Homo sapiens: one gene and its partners. The protein of the gene in region 1 purifies or fractionates together with the protein of each later gene. This does not show direct contact. Each region holds a gene or a part of one and is shown in the gene's direction. Other genes may lie near its edges.

The links.
Region 2: the proteins of CSF1R (region 1) and SOS1 purify together in Homo sapiens (affinity purification with western blotting; one study listed by BioGRID). This does not show direct contact.
Region 3: the proteins of CSF1R (region 1) and POLDIP3 purify together in Homo sapiens (affinity purification with mass spectrometry; one large-scale study listed by BioGRID and IntAct). This does not show direct contact.
Region 4: the proteins of CSF1R (region 1) and YTHDF3 purify together in Homo sapiens (affinity purification with mass spectrometry; one large-scale study listed by BioGRID and IntAct). This does not show direct contact.

The regions. Positions count from the first base shown.
Region 1 is NC_000005.10:150,076,555-150,080,054, reverse strand, and holds part of CSF1R (macrophage colony-stimulating factor 1 receptor isoform a precursor), read left to right. Parts: coding exon 1-3; intron 4-1,806; coding exon 1,807-1,943; intron 1,944-2,619; coding exon 2,620-2,779; intron 2,780-3,500. UniProt on the Homo sapiens protein: Tyrosine-protein kinase that acts as a cell-surface receptor for CSF1 and IL34 and plays an essential role in the regulation of survival, proliferation and differentiation of hematopoietic precursor cells, especially mononuclear phagocytes, such as macrophages and monocytes.
Region 2 is NC_000002.12:39,020,045-39,023,551, reverse strand, and holds part of SOS1 (son of sevenless homolog 1), read left to right. Parts: intron 1-326; coding exon 327-982; intron 983-3,507.
Region 3 is NC_000022.11:42,594,377-42,597,883, reverse strand, and holds part of POLDIP3 (polymerase delta-interacting protein 3), read left to right. Parts: intron 1-1,518; coding exon 1,519-1,698; intron 1,699-2,269; coding exon 2,270-2,347; intron 2,348-3,507. UniProt on the Homo sapiens protein: Is involved in regulation of translation. Is preferentially associated with CBC-bound spliced mRNA-protein complexes during the pioneer round of mRNA translation. Contributes to enhanced translational efficiency of spliced over nonspliced mRNAs.
Region 4 is NC_000008.11:63,175,121-63,178,627, forward strand, and holds part of YTHDF3 (YTH domain-containing family protein 3), read left to right. Parts: intron 1-210; coding exon 211-296; intron 297-3,507. UniProt on the Homo sapiens protein: Specifically recognizes and binds N6-methyladenosine (m6A)-containing RNAs, and regulates their stability. M6A is a modification present at internal sites of mRNAs and some non-coding RNAs and plays a role in mRNA stability and processing.

The DNA.
Region 1 (3,500 bases):
AAGGTGCGTGGGGCATGGGGACCGGCAGCCAGGCCTGAAGAGTGGGGACAGAGAGCCGGCGGCCACATGGGTGGTGACTGGGGACTGGGTGTGATGGGGGGCAGTGGGATGTCCTCTTTCTTTCACTTCTTCCCCTCAATGGTTCCACGATCATCTATGGGGCAGGACTGACAAGGTGTCGGGGCAGGGAGACAAACCACATGTGAGCAAATAACTCAGTGGGCAAGGTCATCTCAAGTCATTGGACATGCTACAAAAATAAACATTCAACATGGTAGCTGAATAAGGAGTGTGTAGGGCGGGGAGCCTCACTGAGAAGGAAACACTTTATTAGAGCGGAAATCTGAATGACATGAAGAAGGTGGCTGTGCAAAGATCTGCTTCAGCAGGGGGACAGTGAGTACCAAGTGGTGAGGTGGGGACAGGCTCTGAATGTTCTAGGTATGGAAAGAGGACGGAAGCTCAGCCTCAGACATGGATTTCCCACTGGGGGCCTGCCTAAGGCCAAGTGCTGGGCATGTGTAGGAGGGATGCTGAGCCAAGAGGCAGGGAGGAGATGGTGGGTGCGTGTGATGGCTCTCGCGGTGGCCAGGTAACAGTGGAGGTGGAGTCTCACCCTGCTGGGATGGCAGGCAGGATTCTGGTTTCTGGGAGGACTGGTGAGAGCAAGCAGGACCCCAGCCTGAGGACCTGGGCTTGAGACAGCAATCAGTCCCTGTAACAAGGGCCAGGGTCAGAGTGAAGCAGCTAGCCCAATGCCACTGGGATCTGAAGCCACTAAACCTGCCCAGGGGGTCAAAGGACCCCAGCTGTGTGGGCAGAGGAGGCCATTAGGGCTCTTTCCTGGCATTTCATCCTGCAGAGCCCTGGGCTGGCCAAGAGCCAAAGGTCCTGGGCCCTAGTTCTGCCTTGACACCCCCTCAGGGACCTTGGGTGAGTCCTTTCATGTCCCTGGGCCTTAGGAATCTGGATTAGATTATCTTTCAACAGCAGCAATGGGCATAAATATGAATTCAAGGCCTACTGTGCATCAGGCATCTTGCTGGCTGCTGGAATATTCCTGTCACGGATTTGACATTCGACTAGAGTCTAACTATTAAATAGAAAGTAAATACAAATGTGATGAGCAAGAAACCAAGCTGGGGAGTGGCGGGCATGGAGGTGCTGGGGAGGCTAATTCATATCAGCTGGTCACAGAAGCCTTGCTGAGGAATTTTTGAGCTAAAGATCTGAAGGATGAGAACAGCCTCCCATTTGAAGTGTGGGAGGAAAGGCATTCCAGGAGGGAAAGGTGGGTGCAAAGGCCCTGTGGTAGGAAAGAGGTCCAGCGGGCTGCAGTGCAGTGAACAAGGGGTGGGGTTATCAGGGCGGTCAGAAACAGGTTGGGCTGTGGAAGGACTTTGACTTCTTTTCTGAGAGTAATGGGAAGCCCCAAATGTTTACAGAGGAGAGAGGCATGGTCCCATTTATATTTGTAAGAGGTCACTTTAGTGAAGAATCTAGGTGTGGGGGGCTTGGAGGGAGGCAGGGAGGTCTCTGAGGAGGCTGGTGCAGAAGTCCAGAGTGGAGAATGGTGACGGGACTGGGGAGGGGTAGAGGTGATGGAGAAAGTAGACTTTCCAAGGTCTCTTTAGGACAGGCCTTGCAGTGGGGGGACTGGGAGCATCAAGGCTGCCTCCCAGGATTTGGGATGGGGCAGTGATGGGGACCCTGGCCTGTGTGTCCTGGCCCATGGCAGGGAGGAGAGCAATATCTCTATCATGTTCAGGGAGCCTGGGTGTTCAGGGGTCTCTCCCCCGGTCTCAGTCATCCCAGGGCCCCCAGCCTTGACACTGGTGCCTGCAGAGCTGGTGCGGATTCGAGGGGAGGCTGCCCAGATCGTGTGCTCAGCCAGCAGCGTTGATGTTAACTTTGATGTCTTCCTCCAACACAACAACACCAAGGTCAGTCCCTGCAGATCACAAGGTGAAGTCTGGCCATCCTCCCAGCACACCAGGTTTCCCATGGTGGAGTCCTGGGCCCCCAACTCCAAACTGGCTGTCTTAGCTGAAGGCACAGCTCAGACTCCAGAGAGGGGTGCAGACTCACCCGAGATCTCACTCCCAGTCAGTAGCTGACACAGAATCAGGACTCATGCTTGTGCCGCTGAACTTTGTGGGGGTGGGTGGGGGGAGGTGGTTCTCTGTCACCTTGACACATGGCCTTTGCCCCAGCCTTTAGACAAAAGCCAGAGGTGAGCTCACTTCTGATTTAGCAAGGGTTTCCTAGGCCACCATTGAAGCCCAGGAATATAACAGCTATTTCAGAAAGACATTGGGAGAGAGGGAGGAGGAGGGAGGATTCCAGGAGGGACTCACGTTGGGCTGCCTCTAAGAGCCCCCTCCCTTCCCACTGCACCTGCCGTGTTCCAGACACAGCCCTAAGCCACTTGCATGCATATCTCATTTACTCCTCACTACAGTCTTGGGGCAGGGAGCCAGTATTAGCCCCATTTTACAAGTGAAGCAACAGGCTCAGAGGAAAGGCAGATAGTAATCCTTAAAGGCTGAGGATTGGAACCCAGATCTTTCTAATCCCTAAACTACCTTGGTATAACATCTCCATTCCTTCTGGCTGCAGCTCGCAATCCCTCAACAATCTGACTTTCATAATAACCGTTACCAAAAAGTCCTGACCCTCAACCTCGATCAAGTAGATTTCCAACATGCCGGCAACTACTCCTGCGTGGCCAGCAACGTGCAGGGCAAGCACTCCACCTCCATGTTCTTCCGGGTGGTAGGTAAGCATCAGGGTGGTGGTGGACAGTCGGTAGGGATCCTGCAGGAGTGTGAGCAGAAGGGTTTTGAGGAGGAAGCTGATGTCAGGGAAGGAGACCTGCTGAGGATATCTCTGCTGGAGTTTGTTTATCCAAGGCCTGGCTAAGGAGCCACTCTCCAGGAGCTTTCCCTTACCCTCTCCTGGGATCTCTCTCCCATCTTGGAGCTCTTACAGTGCATGGCTGCATTGGGTGCACCTTAGTGCCATTTTTTGTTTATTTGGGGATTGGGGTCCAGTAGCTCCCTACTGGACTTCATTTGTTCATTCTTTCATGCATTCCTTTATGGAAACATGAAAAGACAATGATCACCCAGTGATTATGGGGGAAGCACAAGGTGTCCTGGGAACACTGAAGAGTCCCCCCAACCCAGGCTTCGAGAAGGTGGCCTCTAAACTGGGATGGGAAGAATGAAGGTGAGTTGGCCGGGCAGAAGGGTGGGAAAGGAAGGGGAACAGCGCTTCTGGCAGAGGGAGGAACATATGCAAGGCTCAAAGGCAAAGAGAACATAGATCATTTGGAACACTGAAAGAACTTGACAACAGCTGGGATGTGGAGTGGTGTGAGGAGTGGCCACAGGGGAGCAGAGGAGGTGGCAGAAGCCGGAGGTAAAGGTGTCTTAAAGTGAGAAAGAATAACTGCATCTTAACCTATTGGGAGGTCATTGTAAAGAGGAGAGTGATGG
Region 2 (3,507 bases), on another chromosome or scaffold:
AGATTACTTTTTTTTACTGTATTGGGCTACTTTTTATTAGTTGTCATTCTAAATATTTAGTAGCCAAGATAGAAATAATCATTTTGTAGTTACATTTAAGGAGAATTTTGTCAGCAATCATTGTGCTTTTTAGAACACTGAAAAAAATTTCTAGGTTGCTTTAATTTTCAAAATTGTGTAATTTTGTAATTCTAATCTATTTGGGGAATTAGTGAATACCTTCTCAGTGAGACTTGTAAAAATCTACTTTTACACTTTCCCTTACTTACATGAGCTCTAGGTTTTCTGTCATCTATGTACTAATAATGTCTTTTTCTTTATTCCAGTGAATCTGCATGTCGGTTTTATAGTCAGCAAATGAAGGGGAAACAACTAGCAATCAAGAAGATGAACGAGATTCAGAAGAATATTGATGGTTGGGAGGGAAAAGACATTGGACAGTGTTGTAATGAATTTATAATGGAAGGAACTCTTACACGTGTAGGAGCCAAACATGAGAGACACATATTTCTCTTTGATGGCTTAATGATTTGCTGTAAATCAAATCATGGGCAGCCAAGACTTCCTGGTGCTAGCAATGCAGAATATCGTCTTAAAGAAAAGTTTTTTATGCGAAAGGTACAAATTAATGATAAAGATGACACCAATGAATACAAGCATGCTTTTGAAATAATTTTAAAAGATGAAAATAGTGTTATATTTTCTGCCAAGTCAGCTGAAGAGAAAAACAATTGGATGGCAGCATTGATATCTTTACAGTACCGGAGTACACTGGAAAGGATGCTTGATGTAACAATGCTACAGGAAGAGAAAGAGGAGCAGATGAGGCTGCCTAGTGCTGATGTTTATAGATTTGCAGAGCCTGACTCTGAAGAGAATATTATATTTGAAGAGAACATGCAGCCCAAGGCTGGAATTCCAATTATCAAAGCAGGAACTGTTATTAAACTTATAGAGAGGCTTACGTACCATATGTACGCAGGTAAGAATTATGCAGTTGCCTGTCACTTTTGTTTTCCTGCTTCAAACTGATTTTCTTTCCTGCATGGGTTTATTGTGCCTAAAATAGAAAAGAAACTAACAACCAAAGACCTCTTTTCTTTGACTAAAAATACCCCACTTTATATTTCTTTGGAATGTTTTACTTTTTCTACTACACTTAAATACTTTTTTTTAACCTTACCATCAGTTATAGATGAGAAAATGAGGTCACTTGGCTAAATTTATCCAGTTAGAAAGTGACAGAAACAAGACTAAAGTTAGTAGTAAATCATCATTATTGGGATCTAAAAAGTTTTTTACTCCTTTATCTTTTTTTTCTTTCTTCTTTTTCCATTTCTGAGATTATAAATAAAAATTTTAATATAACAAAATTGTGCTGGTAGTACAAATATACACGGCATTGCTTTCTCTCAGTTTCCACTCCTAAACCTGATTATTTAATAATAAATGTTGCAATCCTGGAAGCCAAGGATTCCAGTTTTATTATAATTTTTCACCTAGAAATGTCTATAGTCAGTGTATTTATTTTACTGACCCAAAAATTTAAAAAATCATAGGAAATGTAAATAGGCTGCCTAGATTTTACATGAAAAACAAATAGGTTATTGTCATTTTTTTCCATATAAAGCTGTTTTTTGAGAGGTACAATTTTTCGGTAGTATGACCTGCCGATTTAGTTGTGCTTCACCAACCTTTTCTATGTTCTTTATGATCTAGACTACAACTATAAAAATGTTTTTTATTCAGTTACCCAAAATTTGTGATTGCAAAATACTTCTTTTCTGCTTAAGAGATTTTTAAGGCTATAAAAGTTCAAATTGCCCTTCTTGCCACATTTTCCTGGTTTTTAAGTCCCCTTAGAGGACTCATAGAATTTTTATAACATGAGCATTCTAAACTTTATCATTTCATCCTAAGTACTTTTGTTTGGGGTTCCTAGACTCATTTGGAGTAAAATTAATCTTTAGATTTTTCTCTGTGTTTGTAAGAAAGAAGTTTTAATTTTTTTTTTTTTTTTTTTTTTCCTGTAGAGCATTGTAAGAAGACTTACTACTAGTGTTTACTGTCACAAGTCAGTGATACTTGGGCAGGAAAACATTTTCAAATTACAAAATTTTTAATTGTTTCTGTAAGACTTGATTGAGTGATAGAAGTTTTCTCTAAATTGCTATATTTCACAAAGTTAATTTATGATTATTAATAAGCAGCTGAAGAATGGTTACAACTATTGTCTGGGGAACTGTCCCTTTTATTTATTTTTTTAAATGAGGACACTTTAAAGCAAAATTAACTGGAACAAGCTGATACTTGTTTTGTAGTCCTGAAAGTCTTCTTTCCTTAATGTGTACAATGTTAGGTAAAGTCCGTGGACATGGTACTTTTGTAATGATGTTTTATTAGTTATTTCTGTCTGATACTTCTTTTCTATATCAATTTTTAGCTTTGGTATAGAGTAATATTTTGAGTGCTTTTACTTATAATGAATATAAAACACTTAAATTTCAAGATTTATAGAACTTTGCCAAAGTTAAGTGTATTGAAAATTTAAGTTGATGAGATTATTTTACTTAAAAAAAATGTTTTTAAAAAATTCCTTCCAATAATTTTTTGAGAAATAAAAGGCCAGTGTTGTGGCTAAGTTTTTTGATATTTTTCTTTTCTGTCTTCTTTTGAAGCTTAACTGAATATTTTAATTTATGTCATAAATATATTACTGGTGAAACTGGAGTCTACAAGCAGCTTTCGTGAGTTGTGGTTTACAGTACACACACATTAGTGTTAACTGTTAGCTTATTTGGGCTATTCTGTAAGGTCTGTTACTGAAGTTATTACTGGCAACATAGAATGGTTTTTAATAGACCATCTGTGAACTTGTAAAACTGAAATGGACTTTTAAGGCCTCACTACAATGGTAACAGATCAAGTTACCATTTGTTTTTAAGAACTACTGGTCTGCTCTTCTCCTCTCATCTTTCTTCAGCCTCCCCAAAGAGAAAAGGGATTTGTGATTTGGTTAGTAGGTATGTTTATTGGAGAACATGCAGTACAGGTTGTGGCTTACACTGAAACAAAGCTAACATTTAACTTACACATTTTTATTTTATTATATAGAATTGTAATAAAAGACATTGGATATAATACATGAGAAAATTTAATGAATACTATAAGACACGACTTACAGACATCTTTTAGATTATTATAGTTTGGTTAGACATTGTCATAAAAACAGAAGAGAAACTGGTTTAACCTTACTTTATTCAGACTTCACTGTGGTGTCAGCCAACTTTATCCCTCAAATATTTTAACAGTAATGTACAAAATGGAGCTATAGATCTCTAATGCTAGAAGAGATGCCCAAGCCTTCACTTTGTAGACAAATCCCAAGGCCCCTGAAGATTATATGATTTCCCAGAAGTTCTATTACGAGTTAATTCCAGAACAAGTCAAGAATTAGGTTTCTTGACTCTAAATAGAGTATATTTTCTACCATGTTACATTGACTCA
Region 3 (3,507 bases), on another chromosome or scaffold:
TGTTTGAACCCCGAGGTGGAGGTTGCAGTGAGCCAAGATTGCGCCACTGCACTCCAGCCTGGGTGACAGGGCGAGACTCCGTCTCAAAAAAAAAAAAAAAAAAGAGGTCGTGAAGCTGAATGATGCCAGTTTGTTTCTTTACAAAGGGACCAGGCCTTTCCAGTAATTAGACTGCTCAAGTCTGCTATCAAGGGAACTATCAGCTTGCTCAGTGAGTCTCTATCCCTATTTGATACCCTAATTGAATAAATGCCATATTTATACTCATGCGTCTTGTACCCTGTGAGATGGGTACTGTTGATTACCCTCGTTGATGGATGAGGGACAGGCATGGAGAGGTGAAATAAGCCTGTTCAACATCACCCAGCTGATGAGAAGCAGTGGATCTAGGAATGGAGCCCGAGCAGTCTCGCTCTCAGGGCCCTGTGTGGAGTCACTGTGCTGTCCCAGCTCTGGAGACGCAGAATTCCACATGAGGAATGTGGAATTCAGCATGGGGATGACGCTGCTTCACCCAGACTTGGAGGAGCGTGGTGAATTGCCCGTGCCCATGCTCTGATGTGCCTCTCTGGCCGCTGCGTTCCTCCTTTCTCCCTGCCCTGGGTCAGTGCCTGTAAACACTGCCCTAAATCAGCAGGGCCCCCGTCACTTCTGCTTTATGCACCTTTTTCCTCAGACACATTAATACAGGGGAGTTTTGTTTCCAAGGGACCACATCCAGATGGAGGGGCTGTTTTTGGTGATCTGCACTGCCAAATGCCCGAGTGTCCCTGACAGTCGGAGCTGATGAGGCCAAGGCTGTGTGTGGTTCCTCTGGATGGCCAGAAGAGGAACCAAAACACTGAATTCTGGGCCTTCTTAAGAGTGGTGATCAGCACATTGTGATAGAAGCATATCTGGGAATGAACTTGGCCTCAAGCTTTTGGCCTTTTAATTTTTTTTTTTGTAAGCAAAAGCAGCTTTATTAAGAAAACAAAGGAATAAAAGAATGGCTACTCCACAGGCAGAGCAGCTCTTTTACATTTTTTATAGAGATGAGGTCTCACTGTGTTGCCCAGGTTGGTCTTGAACTCCTGGCCTCAAGCAGTCCTCTCACCTCAGCCTCCCAAAGTGCTGGGATGGCAGATGTGATCCACTATGCCTGGCCAAGCTTTTGGCCTTCTGACCAGCCTCATATTGTAGAATTTTTAGAAAGTCTAAGTGGTGTGGGTGAGCCTGTGGCTCCTGGGTAATTTTCCAGGTCAGGGCTGTATGGAAGCTTCCTGCCAAGAGCTTCTAGCACTGTGGGGAGTGGCTTCTGTGAGTGCGCGTTCAGGCTGTGTGTTTTTCTCTCCCCCTGCCCCTTCCCTATGGGATGTCACTGGCAGCCGGCAGCCTTTTTGGCTCCAGACCTCTAATAGAATTAGAGAGCTGGGAGGCATCGAGGGTTCATGCTCTCAGCAAGTTGTCAACCTCTTGGGGCTTCTTCAGAACATTGCAGGTCTGGCTTCTCAGATTCTTTTCTGTCTCTTCGTTTAGGCTGGGCTAAGCAGTTCCAAGCTTTCCATGTCCAAGGCCCTCCCTCTCACCAAAGTGGTTCAGAATGATGCATACACAGCTCCTGCTCTCCCTTCCTCTATTCGAACAAAAGCCTTGACCAACATGTCCCGGACACTGGTGAACAAGGAAGAACCCCCCAAAGAGCTGCCAGCTGCTGAGGTGAGGTGATGGTGGTGACTGCAGCAGTTGGGGTCAGGAGGGCTGTATGCTTATATGTACCTCATTGTGTTCCCCACAACGCCTTTGTGAGGTGGGCATTGCCACCCCCATTCTACAGATGAGCAAACCAAGACCTAGGGACTCTTACCCTCAAAGACCTTGCAGGCTAGTGGGGACGGCAGACCTGCTGAGAGATTGCGGTATCTGGTGATATGTTAGACTCTCTCAGAAGAAAGCTATTAGGAGGGCTGAGGACAGATTATCTCATTCCAGTTGGGAAGTCTGGGAAAAAGGGCTCTTTTAGCTGAGTGGGTCTGGAAGCATGAGTAGCCTTCCAGGTAGAGGCTCAGGGCCTGAGAGGCTTGCGTATTTGGGAGATGGGAGAGGGTCCATGCTTTTAGCATAGAGTGATGGGGGGTGTAGTGGACACTGAAGTTCAGGGGGCCCATTTGTGGTAACTCTCCATGGAGCTTTCCTCTGGGCCTTCCTAGTCACGTGCCTGGAGGAATTTCTGTTGTGGGAATGCTTATCAGCCATCTGGCTTCTGGTAATGCTCTTGTCTGTGTGGCAGCCTGTTCTCAGCCCATTGGAAGGCACCAAGATGACTGTGAATAATCTGCACCCTCGAGTCACTGAGGAGGACATTGTTGTAAGTACTGTGACCTACCAAACATTTAAATCTCAAACTGCCTCTGTGGCAAAGGTCTCTTAAGACCCACCCTCAGGTTTGATGACTGCTAGGACTCACCAGACTCAGCATATAGTCACGCTCAGGGCTGAGACTAATGACAGCAAAAGGATGCAGAGCAAATGGCTCATGGGGTGAAGTCGGGGGGAAACGAGGCACAAGCCTCCAGAGGCCCCTCCCAGCAGAGTCGCACAGGATGCTGGGTGCAACTCGCAGCAAGTTGTGACAATACATGTGACACCAGGGAAGCTCATTAAAGACTCAGTACCCAAAGGTTTTACTGGGGGCTGGTCACTTCGGCATTCTCTGTGTAGCATGTACTAAAATTCCAGACTCCCAGAGGGAAAGCAGCTGTTGAGCAGAAACCATGTTGTTTGCACAGTCCAGGCACAGTGAACTGTGGGGTGGCAGGAGCCCTCCTGAGATCCGAGTTCTCAGATGCCAGCCAAGGGCCACCCCTGGAATCGGACCTTTCAAACAATAGCAGTCAGCCCAGCTGCTTCACTCTTCTGCACAGCTTCTAGCCAAGGCCAGGTGCCTGGCCTGAATCTCAGAGTCAGGGGATATCTATGCTATAATGGGTCCTAAATGGGATCCTTTAGTCCCACTGGGCAGTATCCAATAGTTGTGTTTTCCTGTGTCCTTTGGAGGTATTACAAGATGATTCCAAAGTGAAAGAAGTGAGATGGATTGGTGGTATCCACCTTCCTGGTCCATCCCGTCCCACCCATGGCAGTCATGGGCAAAACCTGTCAAATGTCTGTGAGCGGGGTTCTGGATGCAGCTAGGACTTCTTTTCAACATCATTTTCATTCAGGCACCCAAAAGAGCCATTAGTTTAGAAATCCAGGCATCCTTTGAACTGTCAGATCACAAAATGAATACGTTTGGAGAATCCAGCCTCTCCCTGCAGTTAAGTCCCAGACTAACAGACTGCACTGGTCACTACATTTGTTAAATCTTTTTGTTTTGTTTTGTTTTGTTTTTGAGATGGAGTCTCACTCTGTCACCCAAGCTAGAGTGTAATGGTGTGATCTCGGTTCACTGCAACCTCTGCCTCCCAGGCTCTAGCAATTCTCCTGCCTCAGCCTCCCGAGTAGCTGGGATTAGAGGCGCCTGCC
Region 4 (3,507 bases), on another chromosome or scaffold:
CTTGGGCTTATGTATCAAAAGACTTTTAAGTTTTTGTGGCACATGAATATTTGTATCTAAAATAGTTTATCCTTAAGAGGGTTCTTAAAAATAACTCAGTATTATTTTTTCTGATTACTTTTTTTGGCTTGAAAAATATTAAAAACATTAGGTTGTGCTGCGAGTTTCATAAAGATAACTACAACACTTCTAATACAAACATTTTTTTAGTTTCAGTACAAAACGGTTCGATTCATCAAAAAGATGCTGTAAATGATGATGATTTTGAGCCATACTTAAGTAGCCAGACAAATCAGGTAAGTCTTCTGACAGTTTCAGATTTTAGGAAATTAACCTTTTATTAGTATTAGTTGATTTTTCAAATAGATTATTTAATGAGATTAACCATAACATGGATTCATTCATCTAGTGTACCTATATAGTAAGTGAGTAGTGAGTAGCAGTTGCAGATTTATGGCACAGGAGAGTTCTTCTTCAGAAAGTATAGGCACCAGAAACTAGGTTATGAAATATAGAATAAAGATTTGAAGGTGACCATTATTTGTATATATTATGGTTAGGTTTTTTGTGTGTGTGTATTGAAGGAACTTAATCTTTTAATGTCACTGCTATATCTTCATAGCTTAAGCTAATTATAAAAGGCTTAATTAGCTAGAAATTTGGGTATTTGGAGGAGGGATTAGTTACCTGAAATTGCCTGCAATTTTGGGTCAAATGTAGTGTTTTCTTTTTTTAAGACATTGCAGATTGAATTCATTGATAACTATTGAAAATTTTAACATACCTTGGTAATGTCGGTGATAGAATTAAGGAGTTTATAAACATACTTGCTTTATAAACACAGTTACTTCTGTATTGTAGACATGGACAGTTTTATCAAATCAAGTAATTGGTAACTGGTGGCTTTGAGTATTTGTGTACAAGCGTAATTCCAATTTAAACATTGAAGAACAATGCTATTAGGTATCTGTATGCCATTTCTGCATCCATTTCTGTCTGTTACTAAAAATAAGCCACTGATAGAAATAAATGAAAAAATACATTTTCAGTATTCACCAGTTTTTTTAGAGAGAACATTGTGGAATGAAACTGTTTGTTTTGCTTTAAAAAAGCAAAAAATGCTCAAGAACTTTGGGTCTTAAAATTAGTTCTGTAGTTCTTATTTATTTATTTATTTTTGAGACGGAGTCTCGCTCTGTCGCCCAGGCTGGAGTGCAGTGGTGCGATCTCAGCTCACTGCAAGCTCTGCCTCCCGGGTTCACGCCATTCTCCTGCCTCAGCCCGGAGTAGCTGGGACTACAGGCGCCCGCCACCATGCCCGGGTAATTTTTTTGTATTTTTAGTAGAGACAGGGTTTCACCATGTTAGCCAGGATGGTCTCGATCTCCTGACCTCATGATCCGCCCGCCTCGGCCTCCCAAAGTGCTGGGATTACAGGTGTGAGCCACTGGGCCCAGCCCACCTCTGTAGTTCTTTGGAATAATTTTATGATTAATTTGATTAGAAACTCAGTTCTTTGGAATAATTTTATGATTAATTTGATTAGAAACTCAGTTTTTTTTTTTTCTTTAATTTTTGAGACAGTCTTGTTTTGTTGCCCAGGCTGGAGTGCAGTGGCGCAATCTTGGCTCACTCCAACCTCTGCCTCCCAGGCTCAAGTGATTCTTCTGCCTCAACCTCCTGAATAGCTGGGATTACAGGCACATGCCACCACGCCTGGCTACTTTTTGTATTTTTTAGTAGAGGTAGAGTTTCACCATGTTGGCCAGGCTGGTCTTGAACTCCTGACCTCAAGTAATCTGCCTGCCTCAGCCTCCCAAAGTGCTGGGATTACAAGCATGAGCCACCGTGCCCAGCCTAAAATTCAGATTTTAATTGGCACGTTAAAGATGCCAGTTAGTTTGTGTGTGTAAATTTGAAGAGTAAATTGGAAAACTGAATGAAGTTTGACTTGTCTGCTTGCATATATGGAGAAAATGAAAAACGTACTCTAAAATTTTAACCTAGATTTTTGAAACTCTGAAAGAACAAGGAACCAAATCTTACTACAGAACTGAACAGTTTGTACAGTAGAGTTATAGGGAAAATTTGAACAAAAAGTAGTTCCCAATTTGTGGGATGCAGGATTATTTTTAGGATTATGGAGAGTGGTGGTTGTGTTCAACCTCATCTACCTCTTGGTTACTTCCCCTTAACCACCCCTTCCTATCTACTGAGCAACATTCCTAGCATACATGGGAGGAGAAGAAATAAATGGGAAAGAAAAAAACTTTACGATCTCAGCAAAATTACTTTTCCACGTAAAGATTATGAAAGTAGATCATTTGTTGTGAAATGTAGTGCAAGTTTTAAAATAAGCGTGATTTTACTATATTCTGGCTCACATAGTAATCTCAGTTAACGCTTATGGCAGTATGGCAGTATTTTCCAACTTTGCTGAGAAATCTTAATATTAGGAGGTGTAATAAATATTCCTTCAAAAAGATGTCCATGTTTAGATAGATTTGAGAAATTTTGGAGGCTAAACAGTTGAACTGTTTTTTTTGCTACTTGATTTCATAGTTTATAAATTATAATTGAAAATGAAGTTCTTAAGATGAAGATATAGTATAAAAAATCCTGACTTGTTCAAACTCTTATTTTTTTTTTTTTTTTGAAACGGAGTCTCGCTCTGTTGCCTAGGCTGGAGTGCAGTGGCATAATCTTGGCTCACTGCAACCTCTGTCGCCCAGGTTCAAGAAATTTTCCTGCCTCAGCCTCCCAAGTAGCTGGGATTACAGACACATGCTACCACGCCTGGCTAATTTTTATATTTTTAGGAGAGGTGAGGTTTCACCATATTGGCAAGGCTGGTCTTGAACTCCTGACGTCAAGTGATCCACCTGCCTCGGCCTCCCAAAGTGCTGGGATTACAGGCATGGAACACCGCACTCAGCCATTCAAACTCTTTTTTAAGGAATTTTAGTGGACTGTAAAAGACAGTTTTGGAATTGCTACCTGAGTAATCTTCTTGCATGTTTTGCTTGATAACAGATATTTTACAATTCTTTATTATTTGTCACAAGGACATAGAAGGGTTTCTACTGGAGGAAAAATTTTTGTCAGGAGGATTTCTGGTATTCCATAGAGGCACCTTAGTGTCTTCCTAGGGAAAACCAGCGGAGGGTGCCTGAATCCCACCAGTGTAGCAACTAGCACTGTGGTTTGCGTTTTATCTGTTCTATATATTGGAATTGTGCATAAGACTTTACTTGTAAAAAAAAAAATAGTTTTAAAAAGTGTTTGGGAAACCATTACTTTTTAAAAGATGTAAAGGCATTTACCTTAGTGAACCCAAATGAATTTTTTCAGCTGCATCATTGCAGGTTATGTTGGAGCAAAACATTTGTAAAATAGATTTGTTTTAACTCATGATATTTGGAATCAACATATTTGTATCCTGTTTGAAGAGAAGTTGTAAAGTTTGATTCCAGTAAGGCCTGTTCTACCTCTCCTTTGTGGTACTAA